4 linked regions of the Homo sapiens genome follow. The protein of the gene in region 4 purifies or fractionates together with the protein of the main gene of each other region. This does not show direct contact. Each region holds a gene or a part of one and is shown on either strand. Other genes may lie near its edges. The genes, in order: BTAF1, EXOC3, XPO7 and FPR1.

What was found.
Region 1: the proteins of FPR1 (region 4) and BTAF1 purify together in Homo sapiens (co-immunoprecipitation; 2 studies listed by BioGRID and IntAct, with this or other methods). This does not show direct contact.
Region 2: the proteins of FPR1 (region 4) and EXOC3 purify together in Homo sapiens (co-immunoprecipitation; 2 studies listed by BioGRID and IntAct, with this or other methods). This does not show direct contact.
Region 3: the proteins of FPR1 (region 4) and XPO7 purify together in Homo sapiens (co-immunoprecipitation; 2 studies listed by BioGRID and IntAct, with this or other methods). This does not show direct contact.

The regions. Positions count from the first base shown.
Region 1 is NC_000010.11:91,926,747-91,933,783, reverse strand, and holds part of BTAF1 (TATA-binding protein-associated factor 172), read right to left. Parts: intron 2,403-7,037; exon of another isoform or gene 2,264-2,402; intron 1-2,263. UniProt on the Homo sapiens protein: Regulates transcription in association with TATA binding protein (TBP). Removes TBP from the TATA box in an ATP-dependent manner.
Region 2 is NC_000005.10:446,156-453,192, reverse strand, and holds part of EXOC3 (exocyst complex component 3), read right to left. Parts: 5' UTR 6,988-7,037; coding exon 6,844-6,987; intron 6,373-6,843; exon of another isoform or gene 5,985-6,372; intron 5,855-5,984; exon of another isoform or gene 5,801-5,854; intron 5,661-5,800; coding exon 5,441-5,660; intron 1-5,440. UniProt on the Homo sapiens protein: Component of the exocyst complex involved in the docking of exocytic vesicles with fusion sites on the plasma membrane.
Region 3 is NC_000008.11:21,992,637-21,999,673, reverse strand, and holds part of XPO7 (exportin-7), read right to left. Parts: intron 5,312-7,037; coding exon 5,223-5,311; intron 4,183-5,222; coding exon 4,075-4,182; intron 920-4,074; coding exon 837-919; intron 584-836; coding exon 369-583; intron 139-368; coding exon 1-138.
Region 4 is NC_000019.10:51,745,265-51,748,907, forward strand, and holds the end of FPR1 (fMet-Leu-Phe receptor), read right to left. Parts: intron 1,742-3,643; 5' UTR 1,731-1,741; coding exon 678-1,730; 3' UTR 509-677; downstream 1-508. UniProt on the Homo sapiens protein: High affinity receptor for N-formyl-methionyl peptides (fMLP), which are powerful neutrophil chemotactic factors. Binding of fMLP to the receptor stimulates intracellular calcium mobilization and superoxide anion release.

The sequences.
Region 1 (7,037 bases), on a different chromosome or scaffold from region 4:
CTGCCAAGCATCTTGAACAAGTGTTTAAAATATTATTTCCTCATCATACACAATTTAATCCATATAAATCAAGGTTCCATCTTTCTACACCAAAATACCACACCTGAAGGTCACCAATGAACTCTTAGGCTCCAAATCCAATAGTTTTTTACAAGGTCAATTTTTCTTGACTCTTCTTTGACAGCTGCGACCAGCAAGCACCCCATTCTTACAATACTTTCCTTCCTAAGTTGCACATTATATTACCCTGTTCTCCAAACTCTTCTTTCCTTAGTTCTCCTATTCTTAATACTCTTAATATGAATATCGGGAGAATACTCATATTCAATCCTTGACTGCTCAACTCTCATCAGTTTCTCCCTGAGGAAACTGTATACTGTTATTTGTTTAAATTATATCCAGAACAAATATTCCCCAAATCCAGGCCATCTGAGAGTGCCAGTTTCACACTCCCAACTGCCTTGTCATCCTGTTGCCAGATTAACTTCCTAAAACGCCCCCGAATAAATCACTACCTTACTTTAAAACTTTCAATGGCTCACACTTACCTACCAGAAAGTAATCCAAAACAAAAAGTATCTCCCAAATGTGGGTATTTTTGGTTTCCACAATTTTACCTATACTGTTTCCTCCACTCAGAATGTCTCTCACACCCCTTCAAGCTAGGGTTACAGTGGCTCACCCCTCCTCAAGGGGGTGGTTTCCTGGCCAGTTTCTGCCAGATCCCCAGAATGGTCACTGGTTGGGGTTGCAGTGGGTATGTACTCTGCCTCACTGCAACAGCAGGCAGCTGTGCAGATATAATGGCCCCATGTGTGAGACTGGGAACTGTTGGTGGGAGGCACAGCTGAGAATATGGGTATATCACCTGGAATTTAACCAGATACACCACTAGAGGTGATCTTCGGGTGTGCCTGAGCTTGCTTCTCTAACAAGAGAATAAAATGTGCTACAGCAAACAAATAAAGTATTTTTCTCTTTGTTCAACTGTTCAGCTAGCTCCCATCCAACAGGATTCAGCTGAAGTTCTTCACCTTCTTGAAACCATTTCAAACTACTATGCAACAGAGATTACTTCCTTTTCTGAAATCCACATGAATTCTCATCTTGAACAGCTACTTAAGTATTTATTATATTTTTTTGTGGCATCTCTCACATTAATTTGTCACATGAGGTCTAATTTTCCTCATTAGGCTTCATCTCCTTCAATCATTCTTTTTGTCTCGCACAACACTTTGCACAGTATTCAAATATTTGTTATGTAGTTGACATTTACTGTAACTAAAACTATACTTAAGGAAAAGTTCAAGTTTCTTGGGGACAAGTTTAAGAACCAACTTTAAGGAAAGAAAAAATATTTTATATTACCTTTTTTTTTCCTGCTTCCTTTGAGAAACATCCTTAATCTGTGACAGCAGTTTTACATAAAAAATCAGTTGGTAATGTAATGTTTCAGTAACTGAAAAGATCAGCACAGCAGTACTTCAGCCTTCTGAATGAGGCAGTTACGCTTGTCCCAAATAGCAAGCTGAAAAATGCCATGCAATAGGCACTGTATTCCTTCAATAATTTCCATCCTTCTTAAACTTTTCCTTTGGTCCTCTGCTACCCAGCTTCACTTAGAACTCCTGCCCAAAGACCTTAGACTCCTCTCTAACCTAATTGCTGATACTGTCCCACAGACACACAGTTCCTCTTGATTCTCCTTTTTGCAGATCCTTTTATCCCAATGCTATGTCAGGTCACCTCTGCTCTCCCACCAGCCAAATGCCCTGAGGGTAGCAGATCAGCTCATTCTCTCATCCATTCCAAGCCTGTTTATCCTTACTTCTTCCACTTTGGATGGTAACCAAAATTGCCTCCCTGAATAGAGGAATGGAGACACAAGAATGCTTCTTTGATTCTCTTGATTTAAAGCCACTTTCGTAGTTCTCCATTCCTCTCTTCAGGACAGCAGATTGGACACCACATAAAAGGAAGAACAAAGAGATGAGCAGACAAAGATCTGACAAGAGGGCAGTCTGACCTGTTATCTCAGGATAGCCAGCTATGAGGCAAGCAGGGTAAGCATCAGGGCCAGGCCACGGTGGAAAAGGCTGGTACAGTGAACTTGTGGGGAAGAGGAAAAGAACGTGAGACAGAGTCAGTATTATGTTGGAGGGTAGACAGGGCCCTTGGTGAGGGAGAGGTCTGAAGGAAGCTAGATGGTCAGAAGAGAAGGGAAAGTTAAAAGGAGGGCTGACTGAGGGAACACAGTACTTACTCCCATACTACTTTTGGCTAAAACTTCTGTTGCACACAGCTAGCAGGAAAAAGTAACATTCTTCATTCTCTGAAGGATAGACAGACAGATGGAGGAGACACAGGTAACAGATGTCAAGTTGCATGGAAGGTACCAAAGACTATAGAAGATAAGTAAAACATAAGAAAATTATATTTTGTAATATCCACTGGTTATAAATTTATTGAGAATAAGAAATCTGGCCCATTTTCAATCTGGATGTCAATTCCGAGAATTAGCTAAACAAGATATGATTCATGTAACCTGTGATTTCAGGCAACTGTTCTAAAGACTGCCTAGAAAAAGGAAAGAGTACATAGTAGTAGAGGTTATGCTAGCAGTTGCAATCTAACCCCTCTCCTCTCCAGATGTTTGCATTATGTTAATTCATAACAGTAAAGCCATAAAAATAAACAGAAAGAAATGTCATGCATTTTAAACAATAAAACATGTCCTAGATTACTACGTCATAGTTAATAAACAAATACATACTGTATTTCCACTCTAAAACATCTCGGGAGGGGAGGGGCAAAAAGCCTCACTGATATTTTCAAAATATATTTAACCTCTCTGATAAATTAGGAAAGGTCAACTGACAGAATACCTCAAAAAGACAGCTTTGTGGCCTTAACTAAAAAAGCATGACCAGTCAAGAGTAGCCATTTAGTTATACATTTTTTACACGTGGCAAAAGTACAGTAAAATTTTAAATATAGATGATTTGAATGTTTACTTTTCTGTGTTACTCAGGAAGTAAGGAAAGATAATGACCATTACTTAGTATAGTGTACAGTGTGTACTTAATACGTGGAACTTAGTACAGTGCACATATTATCATTAAGGTCAAAAGAAACAACTTCCAACAAATTCTCTAGTGTTTTTAAACATATACTTTCTAGGTCATGTTGTGGGTAATTTGAAACTATGTTAATGTTATGTTGTTTTAAACATAAAGATATCACACAGAACACTAAGAATCAATATGAAGGTGTGAAACCATACCAAAGCCAGGTGTAAGGGCAGGTGCTTGCTAGATAAGTTACCCCACTCTACCCTGGACCATAAACTCCATGAGAATGGAGAGTACAGTTTTTTTCTCTGCTATACCTCTAGCACCTATAACATAGAAAGCACTCAGTAAATATTGGTTAAATGAAGAATGGTGAAAATGTACAACCAAGCTATGCTATTTCCTTCAAGACATTTTTTTCTACCCTCCATCCCTGATCGAACAACCTATAGCCTCTTGCATGACTTTATCTTAATGACAAAACATAGTACATACTAATCTAGGTTCTTTAGCAGCAGTATGGGTGGTTTTAAAACTTCTTATTAATACATATTATGTATTAATATGTAAAATTCATAATACATTTTAAAGTGTATTTTTAAATGGTTAGAACAGTCTATTTTTATGTGTGTCACAATTAAAAAATTTTTAAAATAATAATTCAAACTAGTACCTTGAGAAATACGCCAAAGAAATAAGGAGGAATTTACCATTGGGATTGAAATGGAAAAGCTTTGATTAATGCCTCTTCTACTTTTTCTAGTTTATCTCTAAATTTTTAAAGTATGAGATATTTGATGAATTATAATTTACAATAGTTCCTTCTGTCATCTTATAATGGATTGAAATTAACAATAAGGGCCAGGTGAGGTGGCTCATGCTTGTAATCCCAGCATTTGGGAGGCCAATGCGGGAGGAATGCTTGAGGCAAGAGTTTAAGACCACCCTGGCCAACACAGAGAGACCTCATCTCTATTAAAAAAAAATTATTAAAAATAAATTAACAGGGAGGAATAGGCCTGGAAAACCTGTGTTGTCCTTTATTGGTAATTAAGGTAGTTTTTTCTACATTAACATTTTCCTGTCCAGGACCCACTGAACGTCCCCTACATCAAGAAACTTCCTTTTATTTGACAGAATAGGCCTGTTGAAACAATGTTGCTCTGAAGTATCAACAGTGCAAAGAGAAAATTAACAAAATTGAGCAAAGGTCTGCTATATGTAGCAATTTGTTTCTTCCACAAGAGGATGTGTTTTTGTTTTTTCTGAACCCTTTCTGAACACTGTAACATTTTCAAATGCAAAGATATGTGAGAAATCTAAGGTATGGCTTTTAAAACAGTCATATTATAAGTACTGTCTAGACATTTTAGACATGACCTTTACAGCACAGATCGCTGAGGGAAAACTATATATTTCTGAAACTTTCTCTAGCTGATTAAGGAAAAACTATGTTCCTATTAACTAGCCAATATACAATGATCAGTTCCATTAATTGTGGCATAAACAGGCAAAGGTAGCAAAAACAAGCTGTTTAAAAAATTGTATTAAGTCATGGTTCCCAACACAGCTACAGATTCCCCACCAATGAATAAACCTAAACCAGGCGCAGTGGCTCACACCAGTAATCCCAGCACTTTAGGGGCAAAGCCACGTGGATCACTGGAGCCCAGGAGTTTGCAACCAGCCTGGGCAACATGATGAAACCCCACTTCTACAAAATATACAAAAAAAATTAGCCAGGCATGGTGGTATGCATCTGTGGTCCTAGCAACTGGGGAGGCTGAGGTGGGAGGATCACTTGAGGCCGTGATTGTGCCACTGCACTCCAGCTTTCCAGCTTGGAGGACAGAGTGAGACTCTGCCTCCAAAAACAAACAAACAAACAAACAACAAAAATGCCAAAGAAATCCATCTCAGGTTGCTTTTTTTGGGGGGCGGGGGGGGGGGGGATGGATTCTTGCTCTGTTGCCCAGGCTGGAGTGCAGTGCTGCGATCGCAAAGGTTGCTTTTACCGTTGGTGGCAAAATCCCAACTAAGTAACACATGATAATGAGAAAAAGCCCCATAAAGCAAAATAATGGTGTTCAAAAATATAACACTTATTATTTAAATTATTCACAAGAAACACTGAAAGCCTGTAACATACACTAATTTGTTTTTTGCTGAGGTTGACTTTGTGGAAGCAAGTCAAGTAGCTAGTGAATGACTAGCTGACTTTCCGGCATCCGCATCTTAAGGACAACATTGTTCTCTACTCCTACATTTGGATTTTGGGTCTTTTACTAAGGGTTTAAAAGAGTCATATCATTTTCCAGTGATATTTCACTGGATTTGACAGAGAACTTCAAATGCTATGATTGTATTTACAATTTTAGAGAGTAACAAAGTTATTTTTGCAAGATGTAATTCAGCTACAGATCAAGAGTTGGCCATGCATTTCATAATCTGCCACATTCTTACAACTGAAAGTACAGTAAAACCAAGCCTATTAAGCAGGGTCTAAAAAATTTGACCACATAAAATACATCATATCAATTTTGCATTATAAATGGCCATGCTATCACAGAATTTACTATATTATAAACTTCAAAAATTATTCTAATTGCCTTCCTATAGGAGATAGCTTTAAAAAGAAAAAAATATTCCGATGATTGTTAAAATTAGAAAATGGCCAATATTAAAAAGCTATAGTGAAAGTTTTCCTTACTGCAAAAAAAAAAAAAAAAAAAGAAAAAAGGCAGTTAAACTCAAAAGTACTCACTGAAAAACACTGGAAATAGTCTACTATGCACAAATTACGGTAAAATCATACTCCTACAAATGTAGGAGTAGAGAACAATGTTGTCCCTAAGATGCGGATGCTGGAAAGTCAGCTAGTCATTCACTAGTTACTTGACTTGCTTCCACAAAGTCAACCTCAGCAAAAAACAAATTAGTATATGTTACAGGCTTTCAGTGTTTCTTGTGAATAATTTAAATAATAATTGTTATATCTTTGAATACCATTATTTTGCTTTATGAGGCAACTCATATGGCAACTCAAAAGGTACCAAAGCAAGAAGCAAAATCATTCATTCATTTTTTTTTTAAATGTACTGAACACCCACTAGGAGCCAGGCATTCTGAGCATGGAAAAATCAAAGACACATTTCCTTCTCTCAGAGTTTATGTTAATCCAGCAAGTAAGAGAACAATTAACCAATTACAAAATATAAATATTATGACTGATAGGAATATGTATTGGTGCAAATAGCTCAGATGAAGTAAAACCAGAGAAAATGTCCTGAACAAGGTAATATATAAGCTTAGATCAAAAAATTGAGGCAGGTGGATCGCCTGAAGTCAGGAGTTCGAGGCCAGCCTGACCAACATGGAGAAACCCCATCTCTACTAAAAATACAAAATTAGCCGGGTGTGGTGGTGCATGCCTGTAATCCCAGCTACTCGGGAGGCTGAGGCAGGAGAATCGTTTGAACCCGGGAGGTGGAGGTTATGGTGAGTCAAGAACGCACCATTGCACTCCAGCGTGGGCAACAAGAGCAAAACTCTGTCTCAAAAAAAAAAAAAATCAAACAAAAAAACACACTAAGGTCAGAACTAGCCATACCTGAGATGGGGCTAAGAAGTGTTCCAAAGATAAACAGTAGGGGGTAACAAAATGAATTCTGGGGAGGGTGGAGGATAGAAGAGAGAAGAAGGTGAAGGGGAAGTACAGAGAAGTTGACACAAGATGAATCTAAAAAGATGACACAGGAACCAGATCACAAAGGACTTGGTAAGATATGTTTGTTTGAGAATGTGGACTTTATCCTAAGGCAATAGGAAACAACTAAAGGTATTAATTAGAAAGATTACCATGTTCATGTTCAAATCTTCAAATCAGTAAATAATATGACTGAAGCGAAGAACAGATTGAAATGAGATGCCATGGAAGGCAGGAAAAGGAGAGAGGCTCCTGTCTTG
Region 2 (7,037 bases), on a different chromosome or scaffold from region 4:
ATAAATGGTAAACTGTGGTTAACTGTGGTCATTTGCAGCTCTCAGCTGGGCAGTGGCTACCGAGGCCCCACCTCCCACCCCGCAGGCAGCTGTGCATGTGCTGATGTGTTCCTAAAGCTGCCTGCACACAGCCTGCAGCCTGGCTGGGCAAAAAGAACCCTGTCCTCCACACCGGAGATCTGTACTCAGATCACTGACTGCTGCTTCTGACCACAGAGGTGCGAAGAGGTAAGTGGCCACTGTTGCATCTTCCCCTGTTCACAGGTCCCTCCTCACCCCCACAGAGCTCCAGGGAATTTAAAGGGCCAATGTCTTCACCACCCCCTTCATCTGTTCCCCTTCTTGAAAGCCAGATATTTATGAATGAAGACATTCAAAAGTAACTGCATTTATAGGAAAAATTCGGAAGTGGCCAATGCATGCCCAGGCAAAGGCATAGGCTCAGAAAAGACTTGACACGACCTTGAAGTTCACACCTCAGGCTGTGCCTTGGCACAGAGAGCCTACAACAACCAAAAACAAGAATCATCAACCTGGGAAGGGGATCTGATTTCCAGAGTTATCACATTATTCGATTCAAGTGTCCATTTTTCAACAACAAAAACATCACAAGGCACCCAAAGAAAGAAGAAAGTATGGCCCATTCAAAGGAAAACATAAGAAACTGTTCCTGTAAAAGATCTGATGGCAGATCTACTAGAGAAAGACTTTAAAACAACGATTTAAAGATGCCTAAGGAACTTAAAGATGTGAAGAAAGACATGTATGAGCAAAATGGAAATACCAATAATGAGACAGAAAATCCAAAAGGAAACCAAACAGAAAATATGAAGCTGAAAAGTACAATAAATGAAATGAAAAATTCACTAAAGGGATTCAAAGGCAGATCTGCACAGGCGCAAGAAAGAATCAGTGAATGTGAAGACAGGACAATGGGAAATATCAAGTATCCGGAACAGAAAGAAAAAAGATTGAAGAAAAGTGAACAGAGCCTCAGGGACCTTGTGGACATCATCAAGCAGGCCAACATATGCTTAGTGGGACTTTTAGAAGGAGAAGAGAGAAATGGGCAAGACATTATTTGAAGAAATAATAGGTGAAAACTCCCCACATTTGATGAAAGACATGAATATGAAGATCCAAGAAGCTCAATGACCTCCAAGCAAGAGGAACTCAGAGGTCCACACTAAGATACAACTTAATCAAACTTTTGAAAGAATTCTGAAAGCAGCAACTTGTCAGAAACAAGGGCTCCAAAATAAGATTATGAGCAGATCAGATTTCTCACCAGAAACTTTGGAGGCCAGAGGCAGTGGGATGACATATTCAAAGTGCTAAAAGAAAAATACTGTCAACCAAGAACCTTAAATCTAGCAAAATGGTCATTCAAAAGTGAGAGCGATATTAAGACATCCCCAGATAAACAAAAGCTGAAAAGCTTGTTACCACAAGATCTGCCCTGCAAGAAATGCTTAAATAGAGTCCCACTGGTTGAGAAGAAAGAATGCTAGAGAGCAACTGGAAGCCACGTGAAGAAGCAAAGGCCTCAAAAAAGGTAAATTCATGGACAATCGTAAAATCTAGTATCATTAACACTTCAGTTTTTAACTCATCACTCTGTTTCGTACATGACTTAAGAGACTAATATTTGTTCTGGTTAAAAGGGACAAATAAAAAAGAAACTAATACATTAAAAAATAGTCTAAAAGCTACTAATACTGTAACTTTGGATTCTAACTCCACATTGTTTTCTACCTAATTTTTAAAAATGAATGCATTAAAAAACAATTATTAGTCTATGATTTTGGACACATGATATATAAAGATGTAATTTTGTGAAATGAACAACCCAAAGGGAGTGGAGATGAAGCCATATAGGGACGGTTTTTGTGTGTTATTGAAGTTAAGTTGATATAAATTCAAACTGAAGCGAGATAATGTTAGATGTTAAGTGTAATCTTTATGGTAGGCACAAAGAAAACAGCTATAGAATATACGCAAAAGAAACAAGGGAATTAAAATGTTTACTACCAAAATAATCAAAAGCACAAAAAAAATGCAGAAATAAGAGACAAAAATGTTATACCGCATATAGAAAACAAACAGCAAAATGACAGAAGTCCCTTCTTATCAGTAATCACTTAAATGTAAGCTCTTCCATCAAAAGAGGTAGGCAAAATTAATTAAAATCTTCAATCAAAAGAGGTAGACAAAATAGATTTAAAAAATAAAACATGATTCAACTCTATGTGTTCACCAGAGACTGACCTTAGAGCCCAAGACACAAATAGGTTGAAAGTAAAAGGGTGGAAAAAGATATTCCATATAAATAATAACCAAAAGAGAACAGGAGTGGTTATACTAATAAATATGAAATATACTTTAAATTAAAAAAAAAAAAACTAGTCACAAAGAAGGCCATATGTATTAATAGAAGGTTCAGCAAGAAGATGTAACAATTATAAATATTTCTGCATTTACTAACAGACCGTCAAAATACATGAAGCAAAAATGGATAGAACTGAAGGGAAAAACATTCAGTTCTGTAATAGTCGGAGGCTTCAATATCTCTCTCTCAATAATGGACAGAACAAGCAGACAGAAGCTAAACAAGGAAAGAGAGGACTTGAACAATGCAACCAACCAACCAGACTGAACAGACACAGAAAGAACACCCAACAACAGAACACACACTATTCTCACGTGCACATGGGACAGTCTTCAGGAAAGACCATGGATTAGGCCTCAAATTAAGACTCAGGTTTTTAAAAGATAAATATCATACAAAGTATCTTCTCCAAACTCAACAGATGACATTAGAAATCAGTATCAGAAGGAAAACTGTAAAATTCACCAATTTGTGGAAATTAAACAACATACTCTTAAACAATTAATGGGGCAAAAAAGGAAACATAAGGGACTTTTGTTTTGTTTTGTTTTGTTTTTCAGATGAAGTCTCGCTCTTGTCCCCCTGGCTGGAGTGCAGTGGTGCGATCTCGGCTCACTGTGACCTCTGCCTCCTGGGTTCAAGTGATTCTCCTGCCTCAGCCTCCTGAGTAGCTGGGATTACAGGCGCCTGCCACCACGCCCGGCTAATTTTTATATTTTTAGTAGAGACGGGGTTTCACCATGTTGGCCGGGCTGGTCTCAAACTCCTGACCTCAGGTGATCCGCCTGCCTCAGCCTTCCAAAGTGCTGGGATGACGGGCGTGAGCCACCGCACCCAGCCATAAGGGATATTTTTAAAAACCTAAGAGAAGAATGAAAATGCAGACGAATCAGAAACCTCACACACTCATGGTGGAAAATGCTGCAGCCACCGGAGGAAACAGTCTGGCAGCTGCTCAAAGATTTAAACATAAATTACCACATGGTCCAGCAATTACACTTGTGTGTATATACCAGAAAGAAATAAAAGTAAAACATCTGTACACCCATGTTCACTACAGCATTATTCACAATAGCTAAAACGTGGAAGCAATTCAAATGTCCACCAACAGACAAACGGATAAGCAAAATGTGGTCCATCCATACAATGGAATATTATTCAGCCTTAAAAGTGAAGGAAATTCTACAATACCACAGCATAGAAGACCCCTGAGGACATCATGCTGAGTGAAATAAGCATGTCACAGAAAGACAGATAATGTGTGATGCCACTTCTATGAGGTCTTCAGAGTCATCCAATTCACAGAGACAGAAGGCAGAATGGTGGTGACCAGGAGCTGGGGCAGAGGGTGCGAAGTCAGTGTTTAATGGGTACAGATTTTCATGTCTGCAAGATGAAAAGAGTTCTGAAGACGGATGTGGCAATGGTTGCACAACAATATGAATGTTCTTAATAGTCCCCAACTGTACACTTAAAAATGGTTAAGACGGCAAACTGTACATATGCATTTTAGAAGAAGAAAAAATGGGGGAGGGGAGCTGTGTACACAGCATTGCTGAGTTATAGGCAATGAGACAAGTCTGAAGGCAACCAAACCAATCTTCTCAATGAAAATTTATCCGTAACAAAAAACATGCATACCACGCAGGCTCATTTGTTCACCAAGGAAAGGAAATTATTTTCAACTGCTGTGGATAAACTAATTCCAGTAATGCACCTTTTTGGTCATCAGGCATTAGTTTAAAAGACCGGAAGGAAATGTAGCCAGCCAATACGAAATAAGAGGAAATTAACTAGAAAGCTGCCAGCTGAGCATCACCAAGGAGACTCCGTCGAGAGGACTTTATTCCTGTTCCAGGCGGCCCACAGTCACCAAGAAGAGCTGCTTTCTGAGTTGGCAGCACAGTGGCGTTCGTGTTGGGCATGCACAAAGAGACACGGACTGCAGCCACACATGTGACCCTACGGATCATGCCCTGGAAGAAGGGCACACACAAAGCAACGGGACAAGGTGCTCGGCAATGCTGCAGCCGCAAGCACGAGAGGAGGGCAGAGAGGACAGGGTGGACGGGACACGGATTACCAAGGTGCGCTGTGGGCAGCTGGGGAGAACCGCGCCAATTCACACGTGGCCTCAGGAGCCGAGCAGCGTCACAGATGATGCAGCACAGCCACTGTGAAGGGTGAGCTGGGGCACGTGACGGCTGGGGATGGGGAAGTGTCATACAGACATCAGGGCAGAGACGTCTGGTAGAGGAACAGGAAGAACTTGCCAAGAGGCCAGAGACAGGAACAAAGAAAGGGAAGGAATCAGACCCTGCCAAGGCTTCTGAGTTGGGGACTGGAAGGATGCTGCTGACCTTGACACAGAGCGGGGACCAAGGGGAGGGATGAGGCTGTGGAAGCAGCTCCTGTCACAGCAAGCAGGAGGAGACTGTGAACACAAATGCTGGGAGCCACCACCCAGGGCCAGCTGGCACCGTTCAGGGACAGGTTACAGGGCCCTTGGCATCCTTCTAACTGAGGCATTCAGGGAGAAGACTGAAAGGGTCACTCCCCCACGGCGCTCAGCCCCGCCTCTGCCCTGGCCTGTGCACACACGCTTCTCCTCCTGCCTGGGAGCTGCTGCTCGCCTCAACCCTTCTGCTCTGGGATCTGCTTGCTCTGTCCCATGCACAGGGTGGCTTCTCCTGCAGCTCCTTTTAAGCATGGGCCACGGCGTCTTCATTCTTCTGCACTCACAGAGTCTAACAGCCACATCGCAAGCAAGGGAACGACACTCAGCCAGGGAATCCCTCCACACTGCATTTGCTGGGCAGCCCGCTTCTGGGCCTCTGTCCTGACACTGAACTACAAGCCTTCTCCTAGCCTTTACATGCTCAGCTGATCACTTCCATCCACGTTCAAAAAAAGACGCTGAGCAGACAAGAATCACACTTACCGTCTACAGGTCTACAGTGCGGGCTGCAAAGCACACTGCACACAGAGCACTCAGTGAGTCATGCAAAGACAGCGTGAGTGGGGGCAAGTGCCTCGGCGTCTGGCTGGTACCTGAGAAGATGTTCTTGAGGTTCTCCACGGCTGCGGCGAGCTGGCTGTGCTGCACCACGGCGTCTTTGACGTCCTTGAGGCTCTCAATGGTGTTGATGCTCTGCCTCCAGTCCTTGCTGACGTCTGCCAGCGACTGCTGGATGTCTTTGACGTCATTCAGGGCGTTGTGGAGCTGGCTGAGGCCTGTGCGCACCCCGTCCAACTGTGACTGGATGGCGGCCTAAAGAGAGACGCCACACGGGTGAGCAGAGCCAATGATAGCCATGCGCTGCCTCCTGAAGAACAAATCTTCCCCAGGAGGGTCAAGTTCAGGAAAGAGCCACTGAGTAGCAGGAAACAGTCAATACCCAGAAAAGAAAATAAAATCAACAAGGATTTAATTGATTCACAGTGTACCTTTTTCTTCATTGCTGCCTGGGAACAGAACAATGATGCATTTTAAAGCCTTGATGAGAAAAGGTCAGGACACTCCTCATCTAGCCTCACACCTGGTGATCCTGGACACTACCACGGGTCTGCCCTGGGCCGTGGCCTGCTACGGTACCTTCAGAAGGATGTCACCCATGCTCTCCCAGGCATCCTAGGTTCCTAAAAGGTCTTGTCTAGGCAGAGAGAACGGTCAGGACTTCACTGGCTTGGGGTGGGGGAGTTCCTGCTGTTCAGCCAGCACCACACTTGGCCCCAGGACGGCTGACCCACAGGACAGAATCGGCACCTGAGCTTCAGATCCGCTCTCTGTCAAATGTGAGTTAAAACAATCTGAACAAAATGCCCTCTAGTGGTGCTCTGTAGAAGAGCTTTAAATAAGACTACTTCTCCTTCCTCCAGTATTGTTTAAAAACTTAATAGACACTTTCAGGGTGTTGTTTTTGTTTCTGTGTTTTTTTTTTCTTTTTGAGACAGAGTCTCACTCTGTTGCCCAGGCTGGAATGCAATGGCACCATCTCGGCTCACCGCAACCTCTGCCTCCTGGGTTCAAGCGATTCTCTTGCCTCAGCCTCCCAAGTAGCTGGGATTACAGGCGTCAACCATCATGCCTGGCTAATTTTTGTATTTTCATAGAGACAGGGTTTCACCATGTTGACCAGGCTGGTCTTGAACTCCTGACCTCAGGTGATCCGCCTGCCTCGGCCTCCCCGAGGTGCTGGGATTACAGGCATGAGTCACCGCACCCGGCCTCAGGGTGTTTAAAAGCTTGTTCCTTTGGTGTTTTCACCATTCCCACTGTCTTCTAAGCAAAGCTACTGAGTGGTAATACACTGCTGAAAGTAACTGCTCAAGAAAGTCCAGCTCTGCCTCCTTGCACATTACCATAAAGGCTAGTTTAGCAAAATCATCATGGTGATGTCAAGCAAGAACCTGAAGCCCAAGACAGATCCTGGGAGTGGGGCAGGTGGCCTCACCTTCAATCTGGCCTCCACGGAGGCCTTCTTCCGCGCTTCTCTCCTGCGATACTGCTCCACCTTGTCCAGCTGGTCCGGGCGCTGGAGCATCCCAGCAACCCTTTGCACTGCTGTCGCAACGGCCTCCCGGTCTGTCTCCTTCATGGTGAAAAAGCTGGTGGAATCCTCACACTGTTCATGCTAGGGGTGTTCTC
Region 3 (7,037 bases), on a different chromosome or scaffold from region 4:
AAGTGCAGTAAGTCCTTCAGAAATGGAAGAGAGAATATACATGATGACGTGAGGTTCCAGGCTTGCAATAAAGTTCATATGGTCCTGGGTCAGGACTTCCAGTAGTGAATAATAAGACTGGCTGAGCTTGGGGTAATCCTGTGGGAGAGGAAGAGGAAGAAAATCAGCTTAGGCACTATGCACTCCAGCATGCAGGGAGACGATCTTAAATAGCTTAGCTCCTTTTAGGTGGGAAAACAGAAGACTTAGTTAGAGCAAAAGGAGCTAGCTTACATAGTTTCTCAAGAGCAGTGTTCAATCTTGGTCTCAGGTGAAAAAGGCTGAATGTGATGAGGAACAAGATTGTGGCAATGCAGCGTAAGGCTTACCAAGAGATCACTGTGAGGAATAGAGAGGAGCAGCTTGATGAAGGTCTGCAGAGCATTGTCCAGGGCATCGTCTCCATAGAGACGAAAGACTCCGAAATTGACGTAACTCCCACTGAGAGCAGCCTTCAGCATGGAGAAGCAGATGGAGATGCCCTTGAGCTTCAGAGCATAGACCTGATCCTTTGGGACCTCTCCTAGTGTCAGGATGCGATTGCCTGAGTAGACATGTCATATATGTTTATTCAACCACATTAGAAGCGCTCGTTTAGATCAGCCTTCCTACTCCAAAGGCATACAAATTCCAGTAGGCCCCTGGTGACAGGTGGCACTCTAATGCACATGTATTAGCATACAATACGAATGCTGTCCTGGCTCCTGCCAGGACTGGCCAGAGACCCACATGCTGCTTACAGTGTGGTGACTGAGCTGGAATTAACTTCTAGAGGCATGATTATCTGAAGCACTTACCATACATTGTTATCATCTTGCTGGTTTCTCGGAAGAGTAAGATGCCATTGGGGGAAGAGACATCAAACTGGAGTCGCTGGGACCTGAGCAGAGAGCACAGGAGGAGAAAAAGTCAGAGGTGTTTTCTTGGAAGACTGGGGTACTTGAGGCTCTCATCTGAGTACCTTGGGTGATCCTGCATTTACATTAAGGTAAGCAATTGCCTATCCTAATATGAGAATAACCAAGTTATAGATATTTAACCATGAAGTAGCTTCTATATTGAAGACCAACATGCTAGATTCAGATTCTGCTGCTCAAATTAAAAACATTTATAAGAAAAAAAAAGCAGCAGTAGATAAAATTACTATTTGAAAATTCTCAATTTTATTTGATTAAAGTATACTTTCTTTTTTTTGAGATGGAGTCTTACTCTGTCGCCCAGGCTAGAGTGCGGTGGCGCAATTTCGGCTCACTGCAACCTCTGCCTCTCGGGTTCACACCATTCTCCTGCTTCAGCCTCCCAAGTAGCTGGGACTACAGGTGCCCGCCACCACGCCCAGCTAATTTTTTGTATTTTTAGTGGAGATGGGATTTCACCATGTTAGCCAGGATGGTCTCGATCTCCTGACCTCGTGATCCGCCCGCCTCAGCCTCCCAAAGTGCTGGGATTACAGGCGTGAGCCACCGTGCCCGGCCTTGATTAAAGTATACTTTCTACCCGTCGCCTCTTGATACTAATGCAGAGCCCTTCAGCCATTAGTTGGCATGGACCTTTATGGCTTCAGTGGCAACTGAGGGAGAGGGGCCAAAGCATTGTTACCATTTTATATGAAGAAAAGATGCATAGGGACTTGGAATGGTCCAAAAGAAGCCAGACAGAGAAGGCCATTTGTAACCATCTTGGTTTTAAGTTCCTGACTCTTTTGTCTGCTCCACATTTTGATGAGCTTTATTAGATTCAAGTTGGTAAGACCTCAAAAGCCCAGGAGTCCTTCCTCCTTCCTCCCCCCCACCACACTGAATCCATCAACATCTAACTCTAAAATAAACCCCAAATCCACCTTTCCCTTACATTCTCTCTGCTTCTACTCTTACCTGCCTTTAGTCCCATTCTTCACATGGTAGCCTTTAAAAAACTTAAATGAGATCATTTTAATCCTTTGCTGAAAACACTCTAGCGGCTTCCCACAGCAATGAGAATAAATGCCCACTCCTCACTACTGCTGTGCGAAGGCACTAGATGATCTGGCTCTGCTCACTGGTCTGACCTGCTCCCACAGCCTCCCCCCACCAACCAGGCTCCTGCCACAAGTCCCAGCAAGCCTGTCCTATCTCAGGACTCGTGCAGATGTTTTCTGTTTAGAAGACTCCTTATCTTTGCAGGGCTACCAGAATCTTTCTTGTCATTTAGATCCTAGTTAATATTACCTTCTCTGAGAGGTCTTCCCTGACCCTCCTGTCCTTCAATTCCCCTCTATTTTACTGCCTTGTTTTATTTTGTTTCATGGCACTTAATCACTGGAAAGATCTTCCATACTTGTTTTTATTGTGTGTCTTCCCCACCATTTGTAACATCAAAGAGGGTAGAGATTTTGTCTGGCATAGTGGCTAGGAAAGTTTGGCAAAGAGTAAGTGCTCTCAAGTATCTATTTTATAAATGAGTAACTCTTGAATATAAGTCTCCTGGGAGGTTATAGCCTCTTTAAATATTACCCACTCCATAAGGTTGTTTTAAAACTTATTAATTCTGCTAGGCCTGGTGGCTCACGCCTGCAATCCCAACACTCTGGGAGGCTGAAGTGGGCGGATCACCTCAAGTCGGGAGTTCAAGACCAGCATGACCAACACGGAGAAACCCCGTCTCTACTAAAAATAGAAAATTAGCCGGGCGTGGTGGCGCATGTCTGTAATCCCAGCTATGTGGGAGGCTGAGGCAGGAGAATCGCTTGAACCCAGGAGGCGTTAAGTTGCAGTGAGCCAAGACTGCGCCACTGTACTTCAGCCTGGCGACAAGAGAGAAACTCCGGATCAAACATAACTAACTAAATAAATAAATAAAATAAAAATAAAGAAAAAAAACCTTACTAATTCTCTCAGGACCGCCATGAGAGACCAATGCCCATACCTGAAATTCTAGGAAAGCTAAGGTGCTAGACTTTTCTTTTTCACTGTCCTTAAATTGTTTTGAAAATCTTGCTCACTTTTTAAAAGTAAATTTTTATTGATCCTGCCACAACCTCTCTAATAAATACCTTTCTTAAGAAAGGGTATTCTAATATCTATCATATCCTTCTCAATGTCTCTAACCATGAAATGTGATGGACAAGGCACCATTACCAGATGTTAATTTCTTATCTGTGGGCAGGAAATCAGAATCTTGGTTGCCAAATTTACTTCTCCTAAGAGTAGACATCTGGAGATTCTTTTTATTTTACTTTTTTGAGACAGGGTCTTGCTCTGTCACCCAGGCTGGAGTGTAATGGCATAATCTTGGCTCACTGCAACCTCTGCCTCCCAGGCTAAAGCAATCTTCCTACCTCAGCCTCCTGAGTAGCTGGGACTACAGTTGTGTGCCACCATGCCCAGCTAATTTTTTGTAGAGGTGGGTTTCACCATGTTGCCCAGGCTGATCTAGAACTACTGCATTCACGCAATCTGCCCACTTCGGCCTCCCAAGAAGCTAGGATTACAGGCATGAGCCACCATGCCCCACTGGAGACTCTTTTTAAAAGTGACTTATTAGATGGGCGCAGTGGCTCACGCCTGTAATCCCAGCACTTTGGGAGGCCGAGGCACGCGGATCACGAGGTCAGGAGATCGAGACCATCCTGGCTAACATGGTGAAACCCTGTCTCTACTAAAAATACAAAAAATCGGCCGGGTGTGGTGGCGGGTGCCTGTAGTCCCAGCTACTCCGGAGGCTGAGGCAGGGGAATGGCGTGAACCCAGGGGGATGGAGCTTGCAGTGAGCCGAGACTGTGCCACTGCACTCCAGCCTGGGAGACAGCAAGACACCGCCTCAAAAAAAACAAGACAAACAAACCAAAAAAAGTGACTTATTTCCTGCAGTTGACTATGGTTTTGTGTAGTTAGGAATACTATTCTTTCACACAAACAAAAACACAAAAACTTTTCGAATTTTAAAATGCAGTAGTGAATCTTATTATTTCCCACAATCTGCCCAAAGCACTAGATACAGCAAATTCTCTCAGATAACAGGGCAGATGTGCCCTTGCAAGCTCTGCCTCCTGCTTACCTATTATGAACCAATTCAGCCATCAACTTGAGTACAGGTGTAGTACAGGCTGGATCATGGTACCAGAGCTCAATTGCCCGTTGGAGAATTGGCATATAGGATGGATATCTGTAAATGAGAAGCTAAGGAAAGATTTCTGATTCCAGAAAGGTACAGAATTTAAAATAGTTTTTCAGCACTAGCCAAGCAAAAACTTGTCAAACTACAGTTCTTTAAGTTCCTGTCTCTTGCTTGCTAATCTTGGAGTCTTTCTAACCAGAAGATACTAAAGTGATTTTGTGTTCTTTAACCTGTGAAAGGCATCTCATAATACATTTTAGTTTACATAGGGCCTTTCTTCTGAAGAGCATGATGTATTTCATACTGTTATTTGTCCTTTCATCACTTCTATGGTATTATATGGGATCAGCTCATTTCCTTTACATAACTATTAAAGAGGCACCTGGATTTGAAATAATCTTCACAAGGGTATGAAGTCAGTAAAGTTAGACTTCCTAATTTGTAAAAGCTGTTTATTATTATTATTATTATTATTTATTTTTTTTTGAGATGGAGTCTCGCTCTGTCGCCCAGGCTGGAGTGCAGTGGCGCGATCTCGGCTCACTGCAAGCTCCGCCTCCTGGGTTCATGCCATTCTCCTGCCTTAGCCTCCCAAGTATCTGGGACTACAAGCGCCCGCCACCACGCCTGGCTAATTTTTTGTATTTTTTAGTACAGACGGGGTTTCACCGTGTTAGCCAGGATGGTCTCGATCTCCTGACCTCGTGATCCGCCCACCTCGGCCTCCCTAAGTGCTGGGATTACAGGCGTGAGCCACCGTGCCTGGCCTTTTTATTTTTTTCAGCAGACTGAAACATCTCTCTAAATATAGCAAAACCAACAGTTCTACAGTGGTATATGGTTCCACAGGCATTTATATTTGAGATCCAAAAGAGAAACTGGGAGACTACTTCATTCATGTTCTAATCTCAGACAACCTTATGTCTGTCATAAGGTGGCTTCCAGGACACATGCAGGCCTTCTGGCTAACTCTTCATCTTCTCTGCCTCACTACCCTCCCTTCCCCCTACACCGTCTCTGGACCCTATCACCCAATCACACTCCAGTTAAGGCAGGCTGTAGTGTGCTCCTAGTTTGAGTTAGGATACATCCATTCAAAGAGCATCATGAAGCTGGTCTTGGCATTGAAAGCGAAAGCGATCCCTCTCAGGTCTCTTACTAGGCCAACTAGAGTTCGCTGTAGTAGAAGGCAAAAATGTGTTAAAATAGAAGAAAAGACAAAACTGTAACAATCTGATGAGGATTCCACACATGTATCATCAAATTCTTTCTCTCACAGTTCAACATATACTCCTTCTCAAATATTCGGATTCAATATCTTCTATGCTAGAATGGCATATTTTCATTCTAGCAGTGGAAGTTTGTTTTGGAAGTTTGAAGTTTGTTAGCTTTGGAAGTTTGTTATGCCAAGAAAATTAGCTTTGGAAGTTTGTTTTGCCAAGAAAATACGTTCCTGGTTCGTAGCAAAAATAGAGGCTGATAAGGTTTTAAGACATTGAAGTAATACATCACATGTAAAAAGTGAAAAAGCTTTGAGTCCACCCAGGGAGGAAAGGAGGGGAGGGAGGGGGAGAGAGGGTGGGGGGCGGAGAGAGAGACAGAGAGAGAGAGAGAGAGAGAGAGACACGGCAAAGAAACCAACTCAAAAAGCCAGAAAAAAGCAAAAAAGAAAAACAGAAGTCCCAAAGAAGAAGAGGTAGAAGAGCCATATATACCCTAAAGGAAGTCAGATGCAGGCCCTGCCAGGAGGAAGACAAAGGGGAGTCTACACAGCACCTCTCTCTTTGGGTGGGCCATCTAGATAAGACTATGTTTAATCAGTACTCTCCATTTGCAGAAAAAGAGACTGAGGCTTAAAGAGGCCAAAAAACTTCCCCCAGTCATGTTGCTAGGTAGCAGGAGGGTCCAGATCAGGACTCATACATAATACCAAGACTCCAAATCCAATACTCACTCTCTCAATAAAACTTTTACTTGGGACATGAACAGCAATAAAACTACTATAAAAATCATAGTTTGGGGGTTGTCTCCAAACGTGGAGACAGAACAACAACAACAACAAAATGTGCTCAAGAAGGTTGTACATTTGGGGATCTTGACACGTTTGGCAAAAACGACATCACTTCTGTTAACAGTCTGCTTGTAAGCAAACAGTTCTCTCCTAAGCTGATACCACAAGCTCAGTTTTCCAGTCTAAGACTTGGTCAGTCTCTTAAAAGACTTTACATGGGACATGACAAAGAAGTGGGTGACAGCTGTAGTCCATTACCAAGGTTGTTCTTTTGGTTAATTTTACTTGCTTTACATGAAACTAATACCATATAATGGGAAAAAGGGCTGATATTCACTGATATCCCTAAATCCTTGATATTGGTTGATACTCTAGCCTAAAGTTGGTAATATGTTCCACAATAACCCAAGCTTTGAATGGTACCTATCTCAGACTCTAAAATACAAGTATAATTAGGGGAGAGAGGGTTGCATTAAGTGTTGTTGCTTTCTGTCTACCCTGCTGATTTGTAGATGGAAAAAGAAAAGGCTAAAGATGAAAAAGGAGAGCTTTAGAATGCTAGGTAAAGCCTGGCATTTTTTTCTGGCAATACCCTGGCTAGCTGGTAGTTCTACCATTCAGCCTTGGTGCCCTGAGGAATACTGTAAAAAGTCCTACCAATAGTAACATCCTGGTGTCTTCTGATTTGGACACAGATCTATACAGGTCAAGAGAACAGTATGTATGAAGTAAAAAGATGAAGAAAGCAACAATCAAGAAATGACAATTCTAAGAGCTAGAAAACAAGAACTTAAAATTCCATATATGTGGAAATTCACTGGGCATCGTGTCTCGTGCCTATAATCCTAGCCACGTGGGAAGCTGGGGCAGGAGGACTGCTTGAGCCAGGAGT
Region 4 (3,643 bases):
CCTGCCTCGGTCTCCTGAGTAGCTGGGATTACGGGAGCCTGCCACTACGCCCAGCTAATTTTTGTATTTTTAGTAGAGACAGGGTTTCACCATGTTGGCCAGGCTGTTCTCGAATTCCTGACCCCTGGTGATCCGCCTGCCTCGGCCTCCCAAAGTGCTGGGATTACAGGCATGAGCCACCGCTCCTGCCCTATATAAAGTATCTTCTTGTATATCTTGTCTGATTTAAGCCATACTCTTTCACACTTCTCCCTCCTCCTTCATTTACCTAGGATGACTATATAATTTATTTTTCACAGCAGGGCACTTTTCAGAATGGAAGTGGACACTACTCATCATGATGCCAGAATGATGGGTATCATTCACTACTCATAATTCAGGACTAATAATAATGGGTATTATTTGGGTTCATTTCAGGCAAACTAGGATGCAGATGACAGCTTCTTCCTATCATTTCCCACCCTGACCACCCAAGGCTGAGGTCCAAAATCAAAAAAGAAGTCAATAATAAACTCATATCTGTTTATTCTCCCCAAATCAGGGGACACAAAGGCTTTTTTTTTTTTTTCTGATGAGTGGGTAATCCTAAAATAAGCAGGAAATGCCTGTGGCTCAGCCTAACTCAAGGTGAGACGAAGCTGGAGCTGGGAGCTCGAAAGTGTCCCCCAGCTCCCTCCTCACTTTGCCTGTAACTCCACCTCTGCAGAAGGTAAAGTAGAATTGGTAGCTGTGTCACTGGTTTGGGTTGAGTCCTCGGTCAGGGCCCTCTCCAGACTGGCGGGAAGGGCGTGGATCAGCCTCTCCCGGAAGTCCTGGCCCATGAAGACATAGAGCATGGGGTTGAGGCAGCTGTTGAAGAAGGCCAGGGCACTTGTCACATCCACTGCAATACCAATTTCTTTGTACATGCCTTGCAATAACTCACGGATTCTGACTGTGGCTATAAGGGCCACCACCTGATATGGGGACCAGCAGAGAAAAAAGGCTGCTGCGACAAAGGAGAGGACCCGTAAGGGACGACTGGACTTAATCAAGCCTTGCTTGTGGATCTTGGTGGCAATAAGCCCATAACTGACAGCAACGATGGACATGGGTGCGCTGAAGCCAATGATGAACCGGATGATGCCTCTCACCGTCAACATGGCAACGGCCACATTTATCCTCTCTTTAGGGTCGTTGGTCCAGGGCGAAAAGTTAAAAGTGCAGGCTACTGTCCCCGTTTTACCAGGTACTGTAGTCACACGAATGATAACTGGCAATGTGAGGAGCAGAGCCATCACCCAGGGCCCAATGATCACCTTCTTGGCCAGGCTCACGGTGCGGTGGTTCTGGGTCCAGACTGGATGCAGGACGCAAACACAGCGGTCCAGAGCAATGAGGGCGATCAGGAAGACACTTCCGAACAAGTTGATGTCCACTATGGTAAAGACGAATTTGCACAGGAACCAGCCGAAAGGCCAATGTCCTCCCATGGCCTTCCTGACCATGAAGAATGGCAAAGTGGAGGTGAAACAGAAGTCAGCCACGGCCAGGTTCAGGTAACTGATGGTGGTGACTGTGTGTGTCATCCGGAATCCAGCCACCCAGATCACAAGCCCGTTGCCCAGGACCCCGAGGACAAAGGTGACTGCAAATACCAGATAAGTGATGATATCCAGGAAGAGATAGCCAGCAGATACAGCAGGTGTCCCTCCAGAGATGTTCGTGGGGAGAGAGGAATTTGTCTCCATCTTGTCTGCTCCTGAAATAGTGCAGTCGTGGTCATTCCTCAGTTATGAACCTCCGTACCATTTCCCCACCCCCTCATTTCTGCCCCTGCCAGTTTTCCCACTCCTAGCTTTCTCACCTTCCCCTAGAGCTCCCACAACAGCCGGAACATCCTCACCACTGTCCCTTACACATGCCCACATCTATACATTGGCAATCTTTTATTGTACCTGTTGGGCAAGATTACATCTTTTTTTTTTTTTTTGAGATGGAATATTGCTCTGTCACCCAGGCTGGAGTGCAGTGGCGTGATCTCTCACTGCAACCTCCACCTCCCGGGTTCAAGCAATTCCCCTGCCTCAGCGTCCTGAGTAGCTGAGACTACAGGTATGCACCACCCCACTCCTGGCTAATTTTCGTATATTTAGTAGAGGTGGGGTTTTGCCATGTTGGCCAGGCTGGTCTTGAACTGCTGACCCCAGGTGATCCACCCACCTCAGCCTCCCAAAGTGCTGGGATTACAGACGTGAGCTACCACGTGTGGCCAAGATTGCATCTTATGACACATCCTCATAATTGCTAACATGCAAGCCCCTACCAGGGAGATTAAATGGCTAAGGAAGATAGGGTCCTTGACCTCCAAGAGGAGAATATGGGGCCAAAGATGTATAGAGAAAACATGTATTCAAACAAAAATGTTCATAGAGACACTCCTCCCTATAGCCAAAAGGTAGAAACAACCCAGATGTCCATCAACAGATGAATGGATAAACAAAATGTGGTTTATCCACCCAATGGAATATTATTCTGCCATAAAAAACAATGAAGCACTGATATATGCTACAACGTGGCTGAACCTTGAAAACATTACTCTAAACAAAAGAGGGCTGGATGTGGTGGTTCACGCCTGTCATCTCAGAGCTTTGGGAAGCCGAGGTAGGAGGGTTGCTTGAGCTCAGGAGTTCATGATCAGCCTGAGCCACATAGCAAGATCCTCATCTCTAACAACAACAACAACAAAATTAAATTAAATTAGCTGGATGTGGTGGCACACACCTGTAGTCCTAGCTACTCAGAAGGGTGAGATGGGAGGCTCACTTGAGCCCAGGAATTCAAGGTTAATAGTGTACTATGATTGAGCCACTGCACTCCAGCCTGGGCAACAAAGCAAGACCCTGTCTCTAAAATGAAAGAAAAAAGAAAGGAAGGAAAGAAGGAGGAAGGAAGGAGAGAAGGAAGGAAGACACCACAAGTCACATTTTGTATGATTCCACTTGTATGAAATATCCAGAGTAGCCAAACTCACAGAGACCGAATGCAGATTAGTGATTGCCAGGGACTGGGGAAACTAGGAAGTGGGGAATTGTTGCTTAATGAATATGCAGTTTTTGCTTGGTGTGATTAAAAAGTTCTGGAACTAGATAATGGTTATGGTTGCAACACACTGTAGATGTACTTAATGCCATTGAATTGTACATTTAAATGGGTAACTTTTTTATTGTTGTTTGAGACGCAGTCTCGTTCTGTCACCCAGGCTGGAGTGCAGTGGTGCGATCTTGGCTCACTGCAACCTCCGCCTCCCGCGTTTAAGTGATTCTCCTGCCTCAGCCTCCTGAGTAGCTGGAATTACAGGCACTTGCCACCATGCCCAGCTAATTTTTATATTTTTGTAGAGATGGGGTTTCACCATGTTGGCCAGCCTGGTCTCAAACTCCTTGACCTCAGGTGATCTGCCCGCCTCGGCGTCCCAAAGTGCTGAGATTATAGGCGTGAGCCACTGTGCCCAGCCTAAAATGGTTAACTTTTTGTATTTTACCATCAATTTAATAAAGGAAAAATAAGAGCATAAGATATCAGAAAATCAGTGGGCGACAGCTTCAGTGACCTAGTGTCACACAAACGTGGACTAAGACTTTCTCTCACCCATAACACTGCA